7 linked regions of the Homo sapiens genome follow. The protein of the gene in region 7 purifies or fractionates together with the protein of the main gene of each other region. This does not show direct contact. Each region holds a gene or a part of one and is shown on either strand. Other genes may lie near its edges.

Region 1 (3,500 bases), on a different chromosome or scaffold from region 7:
GAGGAAGCTCCATCACTTTGTGGCTAAGCTATGTCCCCTCCTCTACTTGTGCACTGGCTTTCTGGACCAAATGGCAGGATTTTACATCCATCATCTTTCTAATGTGACTCATCATGATTGCCTGACAGGATCTTTTTGGGATTTGATACCAACTTAAACATTTTTGCTGCTACTCCAAATTCCAGGTTATTATAAATTTCATAGGCATGGCTTCCATCACTTCATTCAAACCAACAGAAGAAGCCAACTGAGTACCTACTCTTGCTCTATCAAATCCCCACTTCTCCCCTCTGTTCACTCCACTCCCCTAGCCAAAAATGCTAGAGGTTCTTTGTAGGCAAGAGGAAATCATAAAGTAGTCTAAGGTTGTTAAGAGGTTCTTGAGTCCATCAGCTAATCTCAACTTCAACAAAATCCCTGAAATGGTATAAAAATATTATGCACTTAGCGTGTGTATATATGTGCTATAACGTTCTCTAGATTCTAAAGGGCTCTATCTGTATCCTAAAAGATTAATCACTGATAGTGGTTACACATTCAACCAACTTCTGGGCACAATGGCCCATAACTGTTATCTCAGCAACTTGAGGGGCTAAGGTGGGAGGAGTGCTTGAAGCCAAATATTTGAGACCAGCCTGGGCAACATAGCAAGATCCCGCCTCTACAGAAAAATTTAAAAATTAGCCAGGCGTGTTGGTGCATATCTAGCCCTTTAACTACTACTAATAATTTACTAGAACCAGCTGGGTGCAGTAGCTCATGCCTATAATCCTAGCACTTTGGGAGGCCGAGATGGGTGGATCACCTGAGGTCAGAAGTTCGAGACCAGCCTGGCCAACATGGTGAAACCCCATCTCCACCAAAAATAACAAAAAATTAGCCAGGCGTGGTGGTGGGTGCCTGTAATCCCAGCCACTCAGGAGGCTGAGGCAGGAGAATTGCTTGAACCTGAGAGGCGGAGGTTGCAGTGAGCTGAGATCGTGCCACTGCACTCCAGGCTGGGTGACAGAGCAAGACTCCGTCTCAAAAACAAACAAAAATAAATTTAAAAAAATAATTTACTAGAACCAAATAGCTAAGATTCTTCAGAAATTACTTGTTGCAATGTAATGCGTTACAAACACTCATCTTCTATAGTAGCGGCTGTCAAATTCAGGCATGCATTTGCAGCACCTAGAGGGTTTATTAAAATACAGATTGCTGGGCTCTATCCCAGAGTCCCTGATTCAGTAGGTATAGGGTAGAGCCTGAGAACTATTTTTTTTTTTTTTGAGACAGAGTTTCACCCTGTTGCCCAGGCTGGAGTGCAGTGGACGCAATCTCAGCTCACTGCAACCTCTGCCTCCAGGGTTCAAGTGATTCTCTTGCCTCAGCCTCCCAAGTAGCTGGGATTACAGGCAGGCCTGCACCATGACCCGCTAATTTTTGTATTTTTAATAGAGATGGGGTTTCACCATGTTGGTCAGGCTGGTCTTGAACTCCTCACCTCAGGTGATCCACCTGCCTCGGCCTCCCAAAGTGCTGGGATTACAAGCGTGAGCCACCGCGTCCAGCCTGAGCCTCAGAATTTGCATTTCTAACAAGTTCCCAGATGCTGCTGCCACTGCTGGTCCTGGGACACATTTGACAACCATTGCTCCAAAGTTCTGTGGTTGCCATGGTGCGCCACTGCTACCAGCAGGTATGTTAGAGTAGAAAAAGAGGTTGAAAACCAAATTCTAGACTAATTCATAACAATTTAAATAACATGTTGATGTCTTAAAGGTTATAGACTTGGATAAAACAAAAACCGCAAAATAAGATGAAACAAAAAATCACACAACATGTGATTAATGTTATTAAAACTTCTATACAAATAAAATTGCTAACACATTTTATACCTAAACTTGCATTAGTCTTCTAAGACATCCTCTTTGGAGAGGGCAATACAGAAAACATTCATAGATACATGTACATTCTGCATAACAGTTTTAAAAGCCTCTAGGGACTGGTCTAATAACACTATTAACAAGTTGTCTCTTTCCAACTTAAACGTTGCACACTGGTAAAAAGAAAGGAGGCCAGGTGGGGTGGCTCACGCCTGTAATCCCAGCGCTTTGGGAGGGCGAGGCAGGTAGATTGCTCGAGTCCAGGTGTTCAAGACCAGCCTGGGCAACATAGCGAAACCCCGTCTCTACAAAAAATACAAAAAATTAGCTGGGCTTGGTGTCACAGGCCTGCAGTCCCAGTTCTTCAGGAGGATGAGGCAGGAAGATCACTTGAGCCCAGGAGGCAGAGGTTGTAGTGAGCTGAAATCACACCACTGCACTCCAGCCTCGGCAACAGAATGAGACTCTGTCTCAAAATAATAATAAATAATAATAATAATAATAATAATAATAATAAGTAAAATAAAAAATTTAAAAAAAAAGAAGAAAGGAGGCATGGCTTCAAGGTGGGAAACATCACAGGTAAATTTGAGAACAAATAATAGGATACACACTCCACCTTTCAGAAGGGTAGAATCTATTAAAAGAAAATATTCAACTATAACAAAATATGACAAGTTTCTCTTACTATTCTTATCAGGTGTAAACTGCATATCCTACAGAGCACTTAGGAAACTGTCTTGCTGTCAGTAGACACGCACACACTTCTTAAATTTTACACTGGACATGTAATTAGATGCTTAAATTTAGCAGGTGACTATAAATTAGAATAATTTAACAAATAACTTCTAGAACAGGTCTAGAAGCAGTAGATTATATATCTTAAAATTATTTTATCAAATTGGGACATCTTACATATTATCAGTACTTTTTCTAGATGGGGAAATGCTTGTAATTTAGTATTTTAAAAAACCCAGTAGAACACAAAAGTGTAATTACACAGCATGTTCCCAATTTTGTGGGGAAAACTACATACACGTGTGTATTTTTTTTTTAAACGGAACAAATATTCATTGGGTCTTTACTGGGTAGTAGGATTACCAATGACTTTCACCTTTTCAGTCTCTTCTACAACTAAACACTATGAGGAGAGTCATCTGTTCCACGCTGTATCTTGAGCATTTTGTCTAGTCCCTGGTATATAACAGGGGATCTGTACCTATTGATCAATATTTACGTGAATGGTCCCAACCCTCATAGTGAAATTCAACTTCTCCACAACCAAAAAGCTATTATTCCTTCAACTCCTGACCCAAATGCCATCCTTTCAGAAGTTCTTTTCAGGTCAATGTGGCAATTTAATCCTTTTCCTTCTCCTAACATTTTGTACTGTTCTCCTGACTTTCTTCTTACCCTACCCTGCGTTGTACCAGAGGGCTTTGCAGCTGTTAAGTGTTCATATTATTGTTTACCTGATAGAGTTCATGAGACCATTGGAGATATTTTGTTCAGTTTAATTCTTCACTTGTAATTGTCAAATACATTTATTTCACTCCATAATACATTGGTACCCAATCTGGATAATACTGGTGTTTAACAGTGTACCACTCACCAGTGATTTGCTTTGCAGGA
Region 2 (3,500 bases), on a different chromosome or scaffold from region 7:
TCACTACGTTTAAAGGCAAAGAAAAGTTAACACCTCTACGATAAAAGGAGAAAATGAGTAAGGGTCCTTAGAAGCACAGGTTCGAATCTCAGCTCTGCCACTAACTGGTAACTTTTTCTGGGCCTCCTCAGAAAAGACAATCTCTTATTTCCCAGCTCTAACATCTGAGCCAGCTGACAGCATCTGAACTTTAAACAGGTGACCTCAGAAATGGAGACTTCACAGGTCCCTTCTCACAAGAGTGCTTGGATAAGGAGTGGACACGCAAGGCAAGGCCAGAAGCATGAGGTGATGGCAGGGAAAAGGCACTCTCTGGGGAAATGTGGACAAATTTCCCACAAAACACCCTGTACCTTTCTTCATCATGTCTCGGTCCAAGGCTACATTTCTTTGGGCAAGATTTACTTCCGATCGAAAATGGAAGCGCTTGGCTCGCTGCTCTTTCTTTTCAATTGCTTCCTAGAAAGTACAGAAAAAGTGAAAGTAGTAAAATATGGAGAAGGCGAGTTAAATCACACATGCATCATGATGCATCAGTGACAAACCTGAACTAAAAAAGAAGAAATAAGCAACACTACACCTTGAATCAGTCTGGCAGAGACCTGGATATTCACACTCAATGACTGGGGGGATATGTTAATATCGCTGTAATTTGCAACCATCTCCGACATAACACAGCCTATCACTGTGCCTGGGACATAGTAGGAACTCAGTGAGTATCTGCTGACTGAATGAATAGTCCTTTAAAGTTTATAAAGTTATATGACACTTCATTTGTTATTATCAATTATGCCAACAAATTACAACTAAACAATTTCAACATCCCAATTTTCCAGGTGCAGAAATGGAGGCACAAAAAAGCAAAAAGGTTTGCTGGAGATACTTCAGCTATTAAGCAAGCAGATCTGATTCCAGTGCTATTTCTAGGAGCCCACCTACAACCACTTCACATTGTCTGAGCAATGGTAATCACACCTATCACGCTCTTCCACATTATAACTGCCTGAGCAGTCCACTCCCTAAAGCTAGTCTGTTTAAAAATAACACCGAAGCAAAGAAACTCTCCCTCCTCTTCCAGCCTCGTGTCCACGGAATCACCAGTTTTCATCTCTAAGTGATAAGAACCATTGACACTTTACTGAAAAAATAATCAGCTTTGTAAGTTTCTTCTAAGAGCTAAAATAAACCCAGGTCCAACTGTGGGTTTCTGATGGCTCTTAGGAACCCTTCACTAATTGGTTTTGTTTGTTTTTGTTTTTGAGACGGACTCTCACTCTGTCGCCAGGCTGCCACGATCTCAGCTCACAGCAACCTCCGCCTCCCGGGTTCAAGAGATTCTCCTGCCTTAGCCTCCTGAGTAGCTGGGACTGCAGGTGCACACCACCACGCCCAGCTAATTTTTGTATTTTTAGTAGAGACGGGGTTTCACCATGTTGGCCAGGATGGTCTCGATCTCTTGACCTCGTGATCTGCCTGCCTCGGCCTCCCAAAGTGCCAGGATTACAGATGTGAGCCACCGCGCCCAGTCCCCTTCACTAATTGTATATTGACTTTGCCACACTAATTGAAGGTCTGACTACAGAGAGCTTGTGGGGATTGGTAAAGTTGCAACACTTCTGTTCTTTCCCAATAGTTAACGCTCATTTTCTTCACTGAAGTCTTCCTAGTACAAACAACAATTTACCTTCCTTTAGAAACAAAGTACTAACTCTGAGACTATCACCCTTTTCCCATATACCTGTGTCATATAATGGCAAACAGTGTAAGATTATGAATAGTTTACTTTTTCAATTACAGTAAGAAAAGATTTTCACTTTATTCTCTTTTCTTGTCTAAAAGATGACCAATTCTCTCTCTTTTTTTTTTTTTTTTTTTGCGGGGATGGGGGGCCTTTAAGTGATTGGAAACACAAGAGACACAGATAAACCATAAAAAGGTTAGCTGGGCATGATAGCATCCACCTGTAGTCCCAGCTACTCGGGAGGCTGAGGCAGAGGGATCAATTGAATCCAGGAGGCAGAGGTTGCAGTGAGCCGTGATCGCACCCCTGAACTCCAGCCTGGGTGACAGAGTGAGACTCTGTCTCAAAAAAAAAAAAAAAACACTATAAAAAGGAAGGCACGAAATATATTTTTATTTTTGCTTTTATGTATTCAATACAGCAATATATACTATTATTCAGAAATGTAATACAAAATTCTGTTCCAAACTTAACTGTAAACATTAAAATCAGAAAAAATGTCTAAAACGGAACATCACTGATTAAAGCAACTTACATGTATTGACTACATATAAGGAAAATAATAGGCTTGACTCTATGAGGTGTTACAATGAAGGTGGTAATCTGGTAATAGCAATCATCAGATACAAGGCAATAGTCTTATTAAGGGCCTATTATGCCGACACGGTGGCTTACACCTGGAATCCCAGCACTTCGGGAGGCTGAGGCAGGTGGATCACCTGAAGTCAGGAATTCAAGACCAGCCTGACCAATACAATGAAACCCTGTCTCTACTAAAATTACAAAAATTAGCCAGGCGTGGTGGCGGGCGCCTGTAGTCCTACCTACTCAGGAGGCTGAGGCAGAAGAATCGCTGGAACCCAGGAGGTGGAGGCTGCAGTGAGCCGAGATCGCACCACTGCACTCCAGCCTGGGCAACGGAGCGAGACTCCACCTAAATATGGGGGGCCTACCATCTGCCAGGCACTTTTCATGTTTTGTTTCATTTCAAGTGGAAACAGTACACATTTTTTTAGAAATGGACATACCATTTAAAAAAGCATCCCCCGTCTTGGACATTTTCTTGGAAACGGTTCAACACAGGTATCTAAGTAGAGTGATTTTATCCTTTCATGGCTGTAAGAACACACAAATGCTGCCTGTACCGTTTCAGGATGCATGAAGACATCGTTGTATAACACAAAATTTTTTTTTGTTGCCCCCACTGGAGTGCAGTGGCACGATTTCAGCTCAGTGCAGCCTCAACCTCTCAGGCTCCAGCGATCCTCCCACCTCAGCCTCTTGAGTAGTTGGGACTACAGACCTGTGCTACCACACCCGACTAATTTTTGTATCTTTCGTAGAGACGGGTCTCACTATGTTGCCCAGGCTGGTCTCGAACTCCTGGGCTTAAACGATCCACTTGCTTGGCCTCTCAAAATGCTAGGATTACAGGCATGAGCCAGCGTGCCTGGCCAATAACACAATTTTTTTTAGAAAAAAAATTTAAATCCAGCAACAAAATAAAAGAGGAAATATTTACTGTTATGTCCTAGGGATCAAATTCATTAAGTTCACTTGCTTATCAAGCTGAATAAATAAATCATAGCCTGTCTTACCTTGGAGGTGACATCAATTCCAGTGATGAAGCTGCCAGCCTTGTTTTCATATCTTCTGCTCGTGTCCTAACACAAAGGGGAAGGGTGAGAAATTCAGACAGCAATTGAGGAAAAACCTATAATAAAAGTCGGCCTGACATCTGCAGGTTCTTTTTTCCTTT
Region 3 (2,954 bases), on a different chromosome or scaffold from region 7:
AGATGCATAATACCTCCCACTCCAAGTGAAATGCCCAACCCTCATCTATGAACACTACTTTCAGGGTCTTTAATGCCCATGACATTCTGCCCAAGAAAACAGCAGCTCTTCAACACAGCAGAGCAATTGCCCTGCCCTGCACCTGCACTAAAAAAGTTCTCAGAGCCATTTTATTCTCCACCCTGTTTCCCCTGGCTCAGCTGCCCTCATACCTCTTTTCTGACTCTGACATGAGGAAGACCTTCTGTTCCACACGCTCATGGGGCTTGCCTGCGGAGCCAATGTACACCACAGCAGGTCGCCGAAGATAGCTCCTGGCCAGACGCTCCACCGCTGGGGGCATGGTGGCCGTGAACATGACTGTCTACGAAAACAGGAGGCTCAGCCCTGCACCCAGGCAGGAATAATCATATATCCCACTGTCACCGAAGGCAGGTCAGCCCAGACTAAAGAATCTAAAATGGGCCACAGTATAGGCTTTGATAGCCACCACCTTAGAAAATAGTGTCCTCTGAATTCCCATCCTTCCTGAGTACCTGCTCATCAAGGCACTTTCCATCTTATGATGACAGGAAGGATTGAGAGCATTTGCTAGCACCTGTGGTCCCGGTAGCAGCATGAGTCTTTGGAATCGTTTTTCCAGGGCTAAGCTAAATGGCTCCACCCTTAGGACTGTCAGAGGACTGTACCTAGGCACACTTCATTCTAGAAACATGTACTCTGAGCCCACCTAAGGCAAGAAAGGCCCAAAAGGAGGTTGGCAACCTTGTACAACTTTTCTTTTTTTTTGAGACAGGGCCTCACTCTGTTGCCCAGGATGGAATGGAGTAGTGGCACGACCTCAGCTCACTGCGACCACTGCCTCCCAGGCTTAAGAGGTCCTCCCACCTCAGCCTCCTGAGTGGCTGGCACCACAGGTGTGCACCACCAATGCCCAGCTAATTTTTTAAATTTTTGTAGAGACGGAGTTTCGCCATGTTGCCCAGGCTGGTCTCAAACTCCTGAGCTCAAGTGATCCACCCGCCTTGGCCTGTCCAACTTTTCCCAGCCCAGGGAAGCAGCCTTACTTGGCGGTACTTATGTTTTCCCGACTCAAAGTTGGCCAGCATCTTCTCAGGGTCCTCAGCCTCATCCGTGTCTGGCTTCTGGTTGCTGACAGGCATGTGCTCCAGGATCTTCTGGACATCTGGCTCAAAGCCCATGTCAATCATCCTATCTGCCTCATCCAGAACCACATAGGTACAGCGGCTCAGCACCAGGTAGCGGTTCTCCAGCACATCAATCAAACGCCCAGGGGTAGCAATCACAATCTGAGGAGTACAGTATAATCATTTATAGCCCAGCAGGTGCCCCTTCTTTTCTTTCCTGTGAACTATCCACCCACTTGGGTGACAGACCTCCAATGCTGAGGAACTTGGACCCCAACCTCTGGTTATGTTTAGCAGTAAAGGCTCCTGCAAACTGGCATGAAATCACTTGTTGCCTGGATTTTCTCAGGAATGAATGAGGTCTCTGAGTAAGGTGCAAGGATTAGACAGAGGAGGCAAAATCAGTAGAAACTTTTTTTTTTTTGGCAAATCATTTCAGATCCTGAAGAAGGAACTTCTTAGATGGGAGAGACTAAGGGGTACTATGAAGGGGGTTGTATAAAGACTAAATTTTTTTAAAAAATTGTAAAAAGACTAAATTTCTACAGCAGACTTCTCATAAAGAGCTCTCCTCCACTTTCCTGAGATGAAGGCAATGCACAAAGTCAAAGATTTGGTCTGGCAGAGTAAAGAGTAACTAAAAGCACAGGCTATGGATATGAGTCTCAGCTCTGCCCATTGCCAGCTGTTTGTGACTTCAGGCAGTTATTAACCTGAACCTCAGCTTGATCTATAACAAGGAAATACCACTCTCATACATTATTGTGAGAATTAATGAGCTAATATATATGATATATACTATTTGTGATATAAACCCTGGTGCATAAGTTCTCAATAAATAGCACATATATATAAACCAGCTCCTTTCTTCATACTACTGCACATATATTCCAGAAACTAGAAACAAAGCCCCAAGATAGCCTTCCCAGACAGCAGGCTGGCTGCTAGATAGAAAAACAAACCTCACAACCCATGCGCAGCCTGAAGCCCTGGTCTTCTCTGGAGATGCCACCAATGACAGCCACAGTGCGGATACCTAGCGGTTTCCCAAACTTGATGGTCTCTTCCTCAATCTGTTGAGCCAACTCACGGGTGGGAGCCAGGATGATGGCATAAGGGCCTTGGTCTGACTCTTCGATCCTGTGGTAAACAGGGTGCCCCACAGCTTCGTGAGCTTTGGTTCTTATCCAACCACAAGCCAGAGCAAGACAAAGTCACTCTTACGGGGAGCAATGGGAATGGGGAGGATGATGAGAAAAGAATGCAATGATCTCACTTAAAAATCAGAGGCCAGGGCTGGGCATGGTGGCTCATGTCTGTAATCCCAGAACTTTGGGAGGCTGAGGCAGGCGGATCACCTGAAGTCAGGAGTTTGAGACCAGCCTGGCCAACATGGTGAAACCCTGCCTCTAATAAAAATACAAAAATTAGCCAGGCGTGGTGGCCGGCGCCTGTAATACCAGCTACTCGGGAGGCTGAGGCAGAAGAATCGCTTGAACCCAGGAGACAGAGGTTGCAGTGAGCTGAGATCACGCCACTGCACTCCAGCCTGGGTGACAGAGACACTCTGTCTCCAAAAAAAATAAAAATAAAAATAAGTCCAGAGGCCAGGCAAGGTGGCACAAGCCTATAATCCGAGCACTTTCGGAGGCTGAGGTGAGTGAATCACTTGAGCCCAGGAGTTTGAGACCAGTCTAGGCAACATGGTAAAACCCTGTTTCTACAAAAAATACAAAAATTAGCTGGGCATGTTCGAACACACCTGTAATCCCAGCTACTTGGGAGGCTGAGGTAGGAGGATATGAG
Region 4 (3,075 bases), on a different chromosome or scaffold from region 7:
ACTCCTGACCTCAAGTGATCCACCTGCCTCCGCCTCCCAAAGTGCTGGGATTACAGGTGTGAGCCACCGTGCCTGGCCAAAATATCTCTTTTCTTAGGAGATAAATACTGAGATATTTAGAAGTGATTAATTCACTTATAACTTGCTTCAAATGACTGAGCTAAAAACAAAGAAACCAGATACATACACAAAGAGGAAAAAAGTGAACACAGCAAAATGTTAATTGCAGAATCTAGGTGGTGGGTAGACGGGTGTTTACTGTGCCATCTGTGTTTAAAATTTTTCCCGGCCAGGTACAGTGGCTCATGCCTGTAATCCCAGCACTTTGGGAGGCTGAGGCAGGAGAATCACTTGAACCTGGGGGGCGGAGGCTGCAGTGAGCCAAGATTGCGCCACTGCACTGCAGCCTGGGCGACAGAGTGGTACTCTGTCTCATAAAAAAAAAAAAAAAAAATTTTTATCCTAAGAGTTGGGAAAAAAAAAGAATGCTCTCTGAAGCCAGGCACCTCATGAGTAAAACAGGCTACAAAGCCCCATGTCCCCGTCACCTCCACCAAGCTCCGGCCCATGGCTAGGTGAAGAACCAGCCCCTGAGCCATAGCCTCCCCTCCCCAAGGTGGGCTAACAACAGCGCCCACCCTACTGAGAGGGTTCACCCTCCCAGTCTGCAGCCCAAGGACAGCAGCCTGGTCTGACCTTGGCCGAGCCACGCCTGACCTCGAGCTTCAGCAGCTTACCTGCATCCCACTCCAGCAGGCTGGGGTCCTCCCAGCTGCTCCCTGCCGCTGTGCGAATGCACCGTTTCAATTTCTCTGGCTTCCCCTTCTTCTTGTCTTCACCCAGGGGCTCTGGGACCTGCAGAGGAAAGGGGAGAGGTGCAAAGGGGTTGGTATTGGGGTCTCCCACTGTCCTTTGGTCCCCGGCCCTCCTGCCACCACAGTAAGGGCTGGATGTGCTTCTGGATGTGGGGCACATGTGTCCGCCTCCCTCCCCCAGGTCCTCCTGCTGTCCGGTCTGTCTGTGTGGAAGTTCCTGGGCTCCTGTCTGCCCCCCGTCCCTTCTGTCCCTTCACCGCTAGGCTCCCTGCTTACCTCAAGAGCCATGAGGCCTGGGGGTGGCTCTGGCCGAGGGGGCCGGGGCCGAGGACGCAGGGACAGGAGTTCAGGAATGCGCAGCGGGGGCAGGAGGCCGCGGACGACCTCCAACGGGAGGGGCAGGGGCTCAGGCTCGGGCAATGGCATGGCCAGGGCCAGCGGCAGGCTGGGCCCAATGACTGCAGGGCCAGCTGGGGCACCTCCTGCCCCCACGGCCACAGCCGCGCTAGCCTCCTCCAGCCCAGCCGCCGCCGCCACCACTGCCTCTTCCTTCTCTTTCAGGCCCAACCCCAGGCCTAGGCCCAGCTCTCGGGGTGCTGCTGGCTCTTCCTGTGGGTAAGAGGAGAGCATGAGGGGGGCCGGCTCACAGGCTCAGACTTTACTGTCATCTCCATTCCATCCAACAAAGAAAGGGCCTGGGGGCCAGAGAGCAGCCAAGAGACACCCAAGCAGAGAGTCTCCAGCCAGACAAACACAGAGAAGGAGAAACACAGGCAGAGAGAGACAGCCACAGACAAGAACATCAGTAACAATCAAAAGAGAAATATTCCAATAGCATGTTTCTCTCTGTACTCCCTTCACAAAAGGAGAGAACAGATTTTGCCACAGAAAGATGCAGAAAGAGACAGAGACAAAGGCAGAGTGAGAAGGTAGAGAAACAGAAAGTCAGGAGAGAGGCCAACTCAGACATAGCCCATTGGGCCAGGATGGATGGTCTCCCCGTCCACCGCACATCTGACCGTTAGTTCCCTGTTCACACTCACCAGAGGGGGCCTCAGTGCAGCCATGGAGCCCAGCGGGGGCCCTGGAGCCCGAGCCATTGGTGGCAGCATCATGGGTGGTCCAGGGGGCCCAGGCAGAGGGGGGCCCACGAGGGCCTGGTGAGGGGGCCGTAGGGCCATAGGGCGGGGGCCGGCTGCTGCAGAGGAGAGAGCGGAATCTGTCAGGGTGTTAGTGGGGAGTTCCAGGGCCTGGGGGGAGTTATGTGGCAGGGATGATGACCCTGGCCCCTCACCTGCTCTCTGTAGCACGTGGGGGACGAAGGCTGGACGCAGGATAGGGGCCCTCTGGGGGGCCACAGCTGTGGGAGAGAGAGATGGGGGTGTGTGTCATGGGGGACAGGGGCACTTGGGACAAGGTGTGTGTGTGCATGCGTGTGTGTGTGTGCACTCTCAGCATCAAGAAATCCTGGAGAAGAGTCTGGGGAGCCCTCCTGGAGATGTGGGGGCCTCTCCCCTGGTTCATTCCATGAAAATTTACCACTGAGAAGCTCCTCTGGCTCAGCCCTGTGGCAGGCAATGCTGGGGACACACCAACAGACCCAGGGTTCTCAGGGAGCTCCTGGTCCAGAGGAGGAGGGAATGGAGACATCACTAGAGAAGGAGAGCCAGTGGGGACCAGCGCTGGAAGCAGGGAAGCCCAGGCAGTGGGATCAGTGCTAAGAGAGGGGAGCCCTCTGACCCAGCCAGGCCCAGGGAAGGCTTCCTGGAGAAAGGGACCTGTGAGCTGAGACCCAAGGGGCAATGAAGTGTTAGGCAAGGGGTGAGTGGGAATATTATTGGCAGGAAGAATATTTATAAGCAAAACCTTTCCCTTTTCAGTTTAGTGTAACTGTAATAGAAGTAGTGGGGCTTAGAGAGTGTCATGAGAAGGGCTGAGCAGCCAGCAGGCACCCCAGTAGAGCTTTTTTGTTCTTAAAGCACAGCATTCTTGGCTGAGCCATGGGTGTCCTCCTGAGGGCACTGGGGAGCCACAGCAGGGTTGGAAGCTGGGCAGGGGAAGTAGGTCAGATTTGCATTTTGATCAAAACCATACTAAAAAGTAAGAGACATTACAACTTCTCAGAGATCATCAGATTAATAAGTATAACAGGATTTAGGTAACATAAGTAGCACGTTTGGTTTAACCGAGATTATACCAGAATTTTACATCCAAGTAAGAACACGCATCCTTTTCATACATATAAGGAAGTAATGTCCTA
Region 5 (3,092 bases), on a different chromosome or scaffold from region 7:
AAATTCCTTTGTGTTGCAAAACCAAGCTGATTTAAACGATTTTGTCTTAAATTGTTGCTAAATGTTTATCTACACATGCTGTCAGAAATAACCTTGTTAAGAAGGTGAAGCTGGTGTCTCAGCAAATCAGACCCCTTGGAGAAGGCGTCGAATGGCCTGTGCCCCGTTTTCCTTTTTCTCTTTCCGCACCATCAAAAGGAAAAGTGAGAAAATAGCAGAAACATTAGTTAAATCCTGAATTATACCCCATAACCTACAGGAATAATCTCACTACACTGAAAGCTGACAATATTTGTAGGATTTTTTGAAATAATTAGGATCCTAATTATTAATAAACTGGTAATTTTGGCTAGGTTTACATCTTTAACTAATAATACTTTCAATTAAAAACTTTCAGGAAAAAAACAAAAGGTTGCTTTTAACTATTTATGGTTTACCTGACTTACCAGCACTGAAGACAAAAACTTTTAAAAATGGCTACAAATGCCTTGTTCACAAAAGACTTTATTATCTAGTGATGCATACTGAGAACATACAGAAATCTGCATGGTCCACTTCACATGCAGTAGAACAATCTTCACTTTACAATAAGTGAGTGTCAACTGTTTTATGCAATAGACAACACTTTAAAGTCACATTCTTAAAGAAAAGCTTCATTTACAAAAGAAATAAAAGGTAAAGAAGCAATTACCGCTTTTAAAAAGCAGCTGCTTTGTTCAAGAGTGGAAGGTTTATGCCTGTATTGAAAGACAACATGATCACAAATAATGAAAACAATGAACAAATGAAAAACACTTTTACCATAAAGCAGTACACTTTCAAAATGACATACAAATAGTTAAAAATTTCATTACGTTGTCTAGCCTTTAAATATGAGGACTTTCAGAATTAGGCCTCAACATTTGTAATTAGTAAATGAAAACTACGCATCGTTTCTATGTCACTAGGAACTATATTTAACAAAATGTATATAAAGTCTATAGCAAGTTGATTTAAAAAAAGTAAAGTTAATAAGAAACAGTACACTGAAGGCGCTCTATCCATCAAGCGCGTTCTCTTCCAATTTTAAATGTGATGAACAAACAGAAATTGTAACTATGCCACAGTTGCAATGCCAAAAAATAAAACAAGATCAGTTATCACACATGCAGGGAATTCTGCCACAAAGCTAACATCCCTCATTTGTCAGTTGTTCCAATAAAATAACATCTTAAAACACCAGAGATGTTGATGGTTTAGCTTACCTTCAGTGTACTGAATGCTGCACACAACCTGCTTTAAAAGGAGACCATCCCTGCAGGCAGGCTCAAGAAGGAACAGACCCCTTTCGGCACTGACTACACCAAGGGCATGCTGCTGTGGCCTGCACACACACACCTAGGAAAACGTGAATATAAACAGCATTTATGCTGGCCATTTTATCTCAAGACCAAAATGAAGCCAAGTCTGCTAAGAACAAATCAACCACCCAATATTACTACTCATTTCATAACAGATGCTTTTGTCTTTATGTGAACTGCAACCATATACATTAGCACTGTAATTTTGTGCAGTCTTGGCAATTTAAAACAGTCTACAGTGAAATTTCACGTAAGACACAAAACAGATTAACTAACATCTCTAAAAGAAATATCACCCTTGGTGTTAATTCAAATATATCATGCTTCCTCAAATTTGCTGGAGAAATATTTATAAGTTTATATACATTAATAAACTGCTGTGAAATTTCTTCAGTCTTTGTATTTACTCAAACCCTTGGAGTTTCTTCATCTTGTTTAAATTTTTTCCTGGATGAAGGCGTGCTGTAGGGCCTGGTTGATGCTAATTCGTTTAGCTGGGTCCAACATCAGAATCTGGTCCAACAAGTCCTTTAGCTGGTGTACTTTCTTACGTTGGTCTTCAGGAAGTCTCTGGCACCCAATCAAGTCAGCCAACAGGTCCTTAGTTGGATTAATGGTGCTCATAACAGTAACTTTCTCCTAAAAATAATTTTTAAAATGCGTATCTCTAAATAAGTTACTAAGCATATACAACTTAAATCAGATTGTTTTGGGGTCTATCAAAAATATTAAAAACATGCATATACATACAAAATATATACACACAGTGCACATTTTGGGCAATGACAGACTGCATATATGACAGTGGTCCCTTAAGATTGGAATACCGTATTTTTGCTCTCCCTTTTCTATGTTTAGATACATACATACACTTACCACTTGCAAAAGTGCCTACAGTATTCAGTCCACCAACTTACAGTTCAGGCCTAGAAGCAAAAGGCCATACTACTTACCCTAGATGTGTGTGAGTGTATGCTGTGGTTATGTGACGCATGACTGTATCATCATCATCTATTCATTTAAAACTTTGCTGTGGTTTCCTCTATGCTGTACATCTTTTTAAAAGGTAACCAAAAAACTTAAATGAAAAAGTTGATGCCAACTCTGGGCTGGGCGCGGTGGCTCACACCTGTAATCCCAGCACTTTGGAAGCCCAAGGTAGGTGGATCACTTGAGCTCAGGAATTCGAGACCAGCCTGGGCAACACTGCAAAACCCATCTCTACTAAAAATACAAAAATTATCCAGGCGTGGTGGCACACAATTGTAATCCCAGCTACTCGGGAGGCTGAGGCATGAGAATTGCTTGAACCTGGGAGGCAGAGGTTGCTGTGAGCCAAGATCGTGCCATTGCACTTCACCCTGGGTGACAGGTGACAGAGCGAGACTCAGTCTCAAAAAAGAAAAAAAAAGTCAACTCCAAGTTAGCAATGAAAATTTACAATAAGATAAGCATGAGCTGTTTGCACTGTACTTTCCCTACCTTGAAGTGGTAAGTGACAGACATGTGAATAAGTTAATACCCTGAAGTATTATTAAGTGCTCTGACAAAGACAGGGACATATGCTATAATAATGGGACAAAAATAAGGAAATCATTACTTCAATCTGGGAGTTTTCAAAAGGCTCATACAGAATGTGTATTTCAGCTGAGGCTTGAAGATGATACATTTTTTAGGGGGTTGGGGGTGAGGCAGCACAGGAAATGACTAAGCTCAGGGAGGTCTGTTAGCAAAGGCACAAAGGTCTGAACC
Region 6 (2,402 bases), on a different chromosome or scaffold from region 7:
ATTTTCACATGGGTTCTGGGTACTTCTAATTCTTTGAAACTTAGTACTGCAGGCTGGGTGCAGTGGCTCATGCCTATAGTCCAGCACTTTGGGAGGCTGAGGCAGGCAGATCACTTGAGGCCAGGAGTTTGAGACCAGCTTGGCCAACATGGCAAAACCCTGTCTACCAAAAACACAAAAATTAGCTGGGCACTGTGGTGTGCACCTGTAGTCCCAGCTACTCATGTGGCTGAGGCACTTGAATCGCTTGAACCCGTGAGGCAGGGTTGCAGTGAGCCAAGATCTTGCCACAGCACTCCACCCTGGGTGATGCAGTGAGACTTTCAAAAAAAAAAAAAAAATCTGAGCTCTACTGCATTGGTTATTAAAATATAATAAAAGTATTAAATTCTATTTTCGCACCAAATGAAAACACTTGATTATCATTATAGCACTTTAAACTTACTTTTCCCTTATATATTCTTGATTTAGAACAAATTACCGTACTTGAATTTCCGATCTTGCTTTCTTTAAATCTTTATTTAAAAGTCCATGCTAATAATGTGTTTACATTTTTACAGTTACATTATGATAGAAACTGTTGGATTTTTTAAATATCTAAAACAATGGCCCACTGAAGAAAGGAACAATTAACTCTTTAATTAATTCCTTAGGATAAATACCCAGAAATTTAACAGCTAGGGCAGACTTCTAATACAATACCGAAAGTCCTTCCAAAAACCAAGTGGTTGCCAACTTATGTCCCTTAGCATTATAACATTCTTGAGCCAATAGTGTAAAAATACGCTGACAATTTTATAGGCAAACATTACTCAAGGTATCTTACTTTCCACTTATTACTAAAGTAATTAACCCCTAAATAGATGCTCCTCAACAGTGGGACTACATCCTGGTAAACCTATCATAAGTTGAAACTATCAAGTTGAAATGCATTTAGTACCCGGATAAACCTATCATAAAGTTGAAAATTTGTAAATTGAACCAGTGTAAATCAGAGGCCATCTTACTTCATACTCATGAAGCAACTATAGTGGGATATTTTTCAACTTACGAGATAGCCTAGGCTTGTTGAAACACTGTCCTAATTTACTGGCTCTCTGGTAATTAAGTCATAAATGGTCAAACATCAAATTCTAGAAAAGCATATATTTAAATTCTCATCACTATAATTCAGAATGACTGGTTTACAAAAATATGTTCATAGTATTTGGGTAATAACTGTGGTGATTGTCTCAACTGGCAAGCTAAGTGGAATGCCTTAAAGAATCTATCCAAGATTAGTTGGCAGGCATTTCCAGTGTTGGTAAATCAAAGGCCCACGAAGGTATGCTGAGCCTTGATAGCACAACCTTGCTTAGGACTTTGCCTCAACTAACATACTTTTTAGTTTGGCAAGTTACCTGACCCTCCAGGTAACTCATTTTTCTCCATAGTCTGCTACTTACAAGATTGTCATATTTTTGTAATCTAGAAGCAATTATAGAGAATATTTTATTAGACTTTACAAATGACAACTGCATAAAACAGAAACCAGTTTCATGATCTAGTTTAGGGAGTATGTATTTTATACAACTCATAATCCTTTACAAATAGAAAAAAATCAGTAATACACTGAATCAACTTGAAGAATCTTCAGCATAAAGTTCAACAAAGTCCCTTAGATGCAATTTCTTTTGGATTTACAGCAACACTTTTTGTTATGTTGTATGTCTTGTAAATTCCAATAAGTCTATCCGAAATCTCAAACATATTATTTCGAAGAGAAATTATTATGAACTGTGCATTTTTTGTTTGTTCCTAAAGAGAAACAAAGAAAAGTCAAACATTAAGTAATAACAGGTAAATCACACAAACATGTAACCTCAAATATTTTTTGGACAATAAACATTACATTGATAACATGTAAAGGAATGATGGCAGGAATAATTCATAAAACAGTATTTGAGTGTGAAAGGAATTTGGTTATTTTGACTTCTAGTGGAAAAGATCTAGGAAGATGACCTAGGATTCTAGCTGTGATTCTGCTACTAATTTGCATTTTTAATTTATATTTTACTCCTCCAAAATGGAAATATTTGGTTCAAATAAAAAATAATTTGGTCTCCACTGATACCAGAGGAGATGGAGATGGAGTTATTAGACAATAAAGAAAAAGCTCAATTGTAAGAAATAAAGAATTCCATGTGTAATGTTTAGGATACCCCTAAAAGTTTCTGGAATGAAAATCCCAAAATGATTACTTACATATATATAAAATGCAACAATGGACACATTTTTAAAATCAAGGGCTGCATCAATCTCATCCATGAAGTAAAGGGGAGTGGGCTTGTAGTGGTGAAGAGCAAATACTAAAGCCAATGAACTAAGTGTTTTCTCTCCTCCCGAAAGGTTGAAGATCTTTT
Region 7 (3,500 bases):
CTACTTGGGAGGCTGGGGTGGGTGGATTGCTTGAGCCTGGAGGCCGAGGCTATGGTGAGCCGTGATCTTGCCACTGCACTCAAGCCTGGGCAACAGAGCAATACCCTGTCTCCAAAAAAAAAAAAAAAAAAAGTCTTCCAGGACATCCAGGAACATTTGTTTGTTTGTTTGTCTTTTAATTTTTATTTCTTTTTGAGACAGAGTCTCACTTTGTCGCCCAGGCTGGAGTGCAGTGGCGCGATCTCAGCTCACTGCAAGCTCCGCCTCCTGGGTTCACAGCATTCTCCTGCCTCAGCCTCCCGAGTAGCTGGGACTACAGGCGCCCGCCACCACGCCCAGCTAATTTTTTTGTATTTTTTTTCAGTAGAGATGGGGTTTCACCGTACTAGCCTGGATGGTCTCCATCTCCTGACCTCGTGATTTGCCTGCCTTGGCCTCCCAAAGTGTTGGGGTTACAGACGTGAGCCACCGCGCCTGGCCAGGAACACTTATTTTTTAATGAACATTGTAAACATAAAACGAGGTATATCTAATGCATCATATGCTACTTATTTATTGAGACCATCTCACTCTATCACCCATGCTGGAGTGCAATGGGGCGATATAGGCTCACTGCAACCTCCACCTCCCAGGTTCAAGTGATCCTCCTCCCTCAGCCTCCTAAGTAGCTGGGACTACAGGTGCATGCCTCCACAACCAGCTAATTTTTGTATTTTTAGTAGAGACAGGGTTTCACCATGTTGCCCAGGCTGGTCCCAAAACCAGCTTCAAGTGATCCACTCACCTCAGCCTCCCAAAGTGCTGGGACTATAGGTGTGAACCACCACACCCGGCTGATATGGTTTTTTTTTTTTTTTTTTTTGAGACAGAGTCTCACTGTTGGCCAGGCTGGAGTGAAGTGGCACGATCTTGGCTCACTGCAACCTCCACCTCTCGGGTTCAAGTGATTCTCCTGCCTCAGCCTCCTGAGTAGCTGGGATTACAGGCATGCACCACCATGCTCGGCTAATTTTTTTTTTTTTTTTTTTTTTTTTTAGTAGAGAGGGGGTTTCACCATGTTAGCCAGGATGGTCTCAATCTCCTGATCTTGTGATCCACCTGCCTAGGCCTCCCAAAGTGCTGATATTACAGGTGTGAGCCACCGCACCCAGCGGCTGATATAGTTTTTAAAACATTAACTAAACACACACCCATGTCCCTCTCCCTGGGGCTGGGGCAGCATCACTAATGCCCTGCCCAGACTTGAGTGTCCCCTCCCCATCCATGGTCATGACTCACCGGCTTGTCTTCATGGCTTTAGCACATAAGGACCTGCCCCTGAACAGTTATTTTGTTGTGTATTAATTATTCTATAACCTGAGTCACACTGTATGACTCTTCTGTGATTTGTTTTGTAAAAAAATCTGTGCCCCTGAGAGTAACCCTGATGCACACGGCTGTAGCTCATCAGTTTCCACTATGGAATCACAGCCCGTGAGCTGGATGCTCCTTGATCTGGCTCTCTAGCCCACTGAGGATGGACTTTTTTTGTCCCAAGTACTGCGGCTGCAGGCCCACTGACAATGTCTCCTGGTGCACATGGGCACACTCGGGAGAGGTGTGGGGTGGGCCCCGGGCACGCACACATTCCCTCTCATCTGATTAGACTCCTGCCCATGGCTGTGAGTAGCGTGGCTGAGGACTCTGGCCGCTCCATGTCCTTTACTCCTACTCGCTACTGTCAGGCTTGGACCTTTCTGCGGAATTGTTGGCAGGTGGCAGGTGCCTCACTGTTTTGGTTCACCTTTCTGTGATCCCTCCTGAAACTGGATTCACCGGGTATTTTCCTGGTGAGTTAGGCTTTCTCTTCTGTGAACTGCCTGTCTTATCTACATCTTTCGCCTATTTTCCTGTTGTGTTGATTTGTTTTGTCTGTTTGTATACTCTTGACACCAACCCATTCTTGGTGGTATATATGGGCAAATATCTTCTCTTTTTGGTCTGCCTTTTTATATTCTTCATGGTATGTTTTGTAAAAAAACAAAAAACAAAAAACTTACGTTCTCAATTTCTTTTTTTTTGAGACGGAGTCTTGCTCTGTCACCCAGGCTGGAGTGCAGTGGTGCGATCTCGGCTCACTGCAAGCTCCGCCTCCTGGGTTCACACCATTCTCCTGCCTCAGCCTCCCTAGTAGCTGGGACTACAGGTGCCCGCCACCACGTCTGGTTAATTTTTTTGTATTTTTTTTAGTAGAGACAGGGTTTCACTGTGTTGACCAGGATGGTCTCATCTCCTGACCTCGTGATCCGCCCGCCTTGGCCTCCCAAAGTGCTGGGATTACAGGCGTGAGCCATCGCGCCCGGCCACGTTCTCAATTTCTATGTAGTTACACGTTCACTTTTTTCTTCATGGTTTCTTGAAGAAACTCACCCATGGAACCTGTGGGTTTCTTGGTTTTTTTTTTTTTTTGAGACAGGATCTTGTTCTATCACCCAGGCTATCATAGCTATCTGTGATATAGTCAGCTATAGTCTATCATAGCTGACTATAACCTCGAACTCCTAGATTCAAGCAATCCTCCTGCCTTAGCCTCCGGCGTAGCTGAGGCTTCAGACACATGCTACCATGCCCAGCTAATTAAAAAAACATTTTTAGAGATGGGGTTGGTAGGGGGGGTGGTCTTGCTGTGTTGCCCCAGGCTGGTCTCAAATTCCTGGCCTCAAGCAATTCTCCTGCCTTGGCTATGCTGACAACTTAAAAAATCTTTTCTACCAAAAAGTTATAAATGTAATTTCCTTAATTTGATTCCGAAATGTGAAGTTTTTACTTTGAAGTTCTTAATCTATCTGCAAGGTGTGAGGTATAAACCCAATTTCATTTTTTCCCCAAATAGATAACTGACTGTCCCACGCCCACTCGCTGCACTGACGAGCGACTCTTCCCACTGGGACACGATTCTGTCTCGGGGCCCCGCTGTCTGGTCTCTCTGTTCTGTTAGTCTATCCTTATGCAATCCCACACTGCCACAATGCCCCTACTTTATCCAATTTCAGAATCATTTTCCAGCTTCCAAAATAATCCCTATTGGGATTTTTACTGGAGTTGCATTTAACCTAGAAATGAACTACATGAGATGGACATCTTGACAATATATTGTCCTATCTAGGAATTGTGTAACCCCTAAATTCATATCGGGAAGCCCTAACCCCCAATGACTGTATGTGGACAGAGCACCTTTAGGAGGTGGAAATTGCAGTGAGCTGAGATAGAGTCACTGCACCCCAGCCTGGGTGACAAAGTGAGACACTATCACAAAACAAAACAACCCCTCAATTCCAAGGATCCTTTCTGTTCTCTCCAGCCTTTCTTTCTAGCTCATTGACTGTATTAACTTCAATCCAGTAATTCTTCAACCACATCACGACTCCAGGCCCTGTCCTCACACCCATCATTCTCTGTTATGTCCCTCATTACCCAGTTTAGACTCAGGGGGAAATCAACAGAACCTCTCCTTTGTGAAA

Evidence for each region.
Region 1: the proteins of SART1 (region 7) and MYH10 fractionate together in Homo sapiens (co-fractionation; one large-scale study listed by BioGRID). This does not show direct contact.
Region 2: the proteins of SART1 (region 7) and NCBP3 purify together in Homo sapiens (co-immunoprecipitation; one large-scale study listed by IntAct). This does not show direct contact.
Region 3: the proteins of SART1 (region 7) and DDX23 purify together in Homo sapiens (affinity purification with mass spectrometry; 5 studies listed by BioGRID and IntAct, with this or other methods). This does not show direct contact.
Region 4: the proteins of SART1 (region 7) and RBM42 purify together in Homo sapiens (affinity purification with mass spectrometry; 3 studies listed by BioGRID and IntAct, with this or other methods). This does not show direct contact.
Region 5: the proteins of SART1 (region 7) and PRP4K purify together in Homo sapiens (affinity purification with mass spectrometry; 3 studies listed by BioGRID and IntAct, with this or other methods). This does not show direct contact.
Region 6: the proteins of SART1 (region 7) and SMC4 fractionate together in Homo sapiens (co-fractionation; one large-scale study listed by BioGRID). This does not show direct contact.

Annotation. Positions count from the first base shown.
Region 1 is NC_000017.11:8,624,226-8,627,725, forward strand, and holds part of MYH10 (myosin-10), read right to left. Parts: intron 1-3,500. UniProt on the Homo sapiens protein: Cellular myosin that appears to play a role in cytokinesis, cell shape, and specialized functions such as secretion and capping. Involved with LARP6 in the stabilization of type I collagen mRNAs for CO1A1 and CO1A2.
Region 2 is NC_000017.11:3,839,747-3,843,246, forward strand, and holds part of NCBP3 (nuclear cap-binding protein subunit 3), read right to left. Parts: intron 3,406-3,500; coding exon 3,340-3,405; intron 460-3,339; coding exon 354-459; intron 1-353. UniProt on the Homo sapiens protein: Associates with NCBP1/CBP80 to form an alternative cap-binding complex (CBC) which plays a key role in mRNA export. NCBP3 serves as adapter protein linking the capped RNAs (m7GpppG-capped RNA) to NCBP1/CBP80.
Region 3 is NC_000012.12:48,832,210-48,835,163, forward strand, and holds part of DDX23 (probable ATP-dependent RNA helicase DDX23), read right to left. Parts: intron 2,289-2,954; coding exon 2,111-2,288; intron 1,311-2,110; coding exon 1,068-1,310; intron 365-1,067; coding exon 213-364; intron 1-212. UniProt on the Homo sapiens protein: Involved in pre-mRNA splicing and its phosphorylated form (by SRPK2) is required for spliceosomal B complex formation.
Region 4 is NC_000019.10:35,632,036-35,635,110, reverse strand, and holds part of RBM42 (RNA-binding protein 42), read right to left. Parts: intron 2,176-3,075; coding exon 2,110-2,175; intron 2,035-2,109; coding exon 1,859-2,034; intron 1,425-1,858; coding exon 1,092-1,424; intron 856-1,091; coding exon 738-855; intron 1-737. UniProt on the Homo sapiens protein: Binds (via the RRM domain) to the 3'-untranslated region (UTR) of CDKN1A mRNA.
Region 5 is NC_000006.12:4,059,300-4,062,391, reverse strand, and holds part of PRP4K (serine/threonine-protein kinase PRP4 homolog), read right to left. Parts: intron 1,980-3,092; coding exon 1,776-1,979; 3' UTR 1-1,775. UniProt on the Homo sapiens protein: Serine/threonine kinase involved in spliceosomal assembly as well as mitosis and signaling regulation. Connects chromatin mediated regulation of transcription and pre-mRNA splicing.
Region 6 is NC_000003.12:160,433,052-160,435,453, reverse strand, and holds the end of SMC4 (structural maintenance of chromosomes protein 4), read right to left. Parts: coding exon 2,245-2,402; intron 1,798-2,244; coding exon 1,645-1,797; 3' UTR 501-1,644; downstream 1-500. UniProt on the Homo sapiens protein: Central component of the condensin complex, a complex required for conversion of interphase chromatin into mitotic-like condense chromosomes.
Region 7 is NC_000011.10:65,971,734-65,975,233, reverse strand, and holds part of SART1 (U4/U6.U5 tri-snRNP-associated protein 1), read right to left. Parts: intron 1-3,500. UniProt on the Homo sapiens protein: Plays a role in mRNA splicing as a component of the U4/U6-U5 tri-snRNP, one of the building blocks of the spliceosome. May also bind to DNA.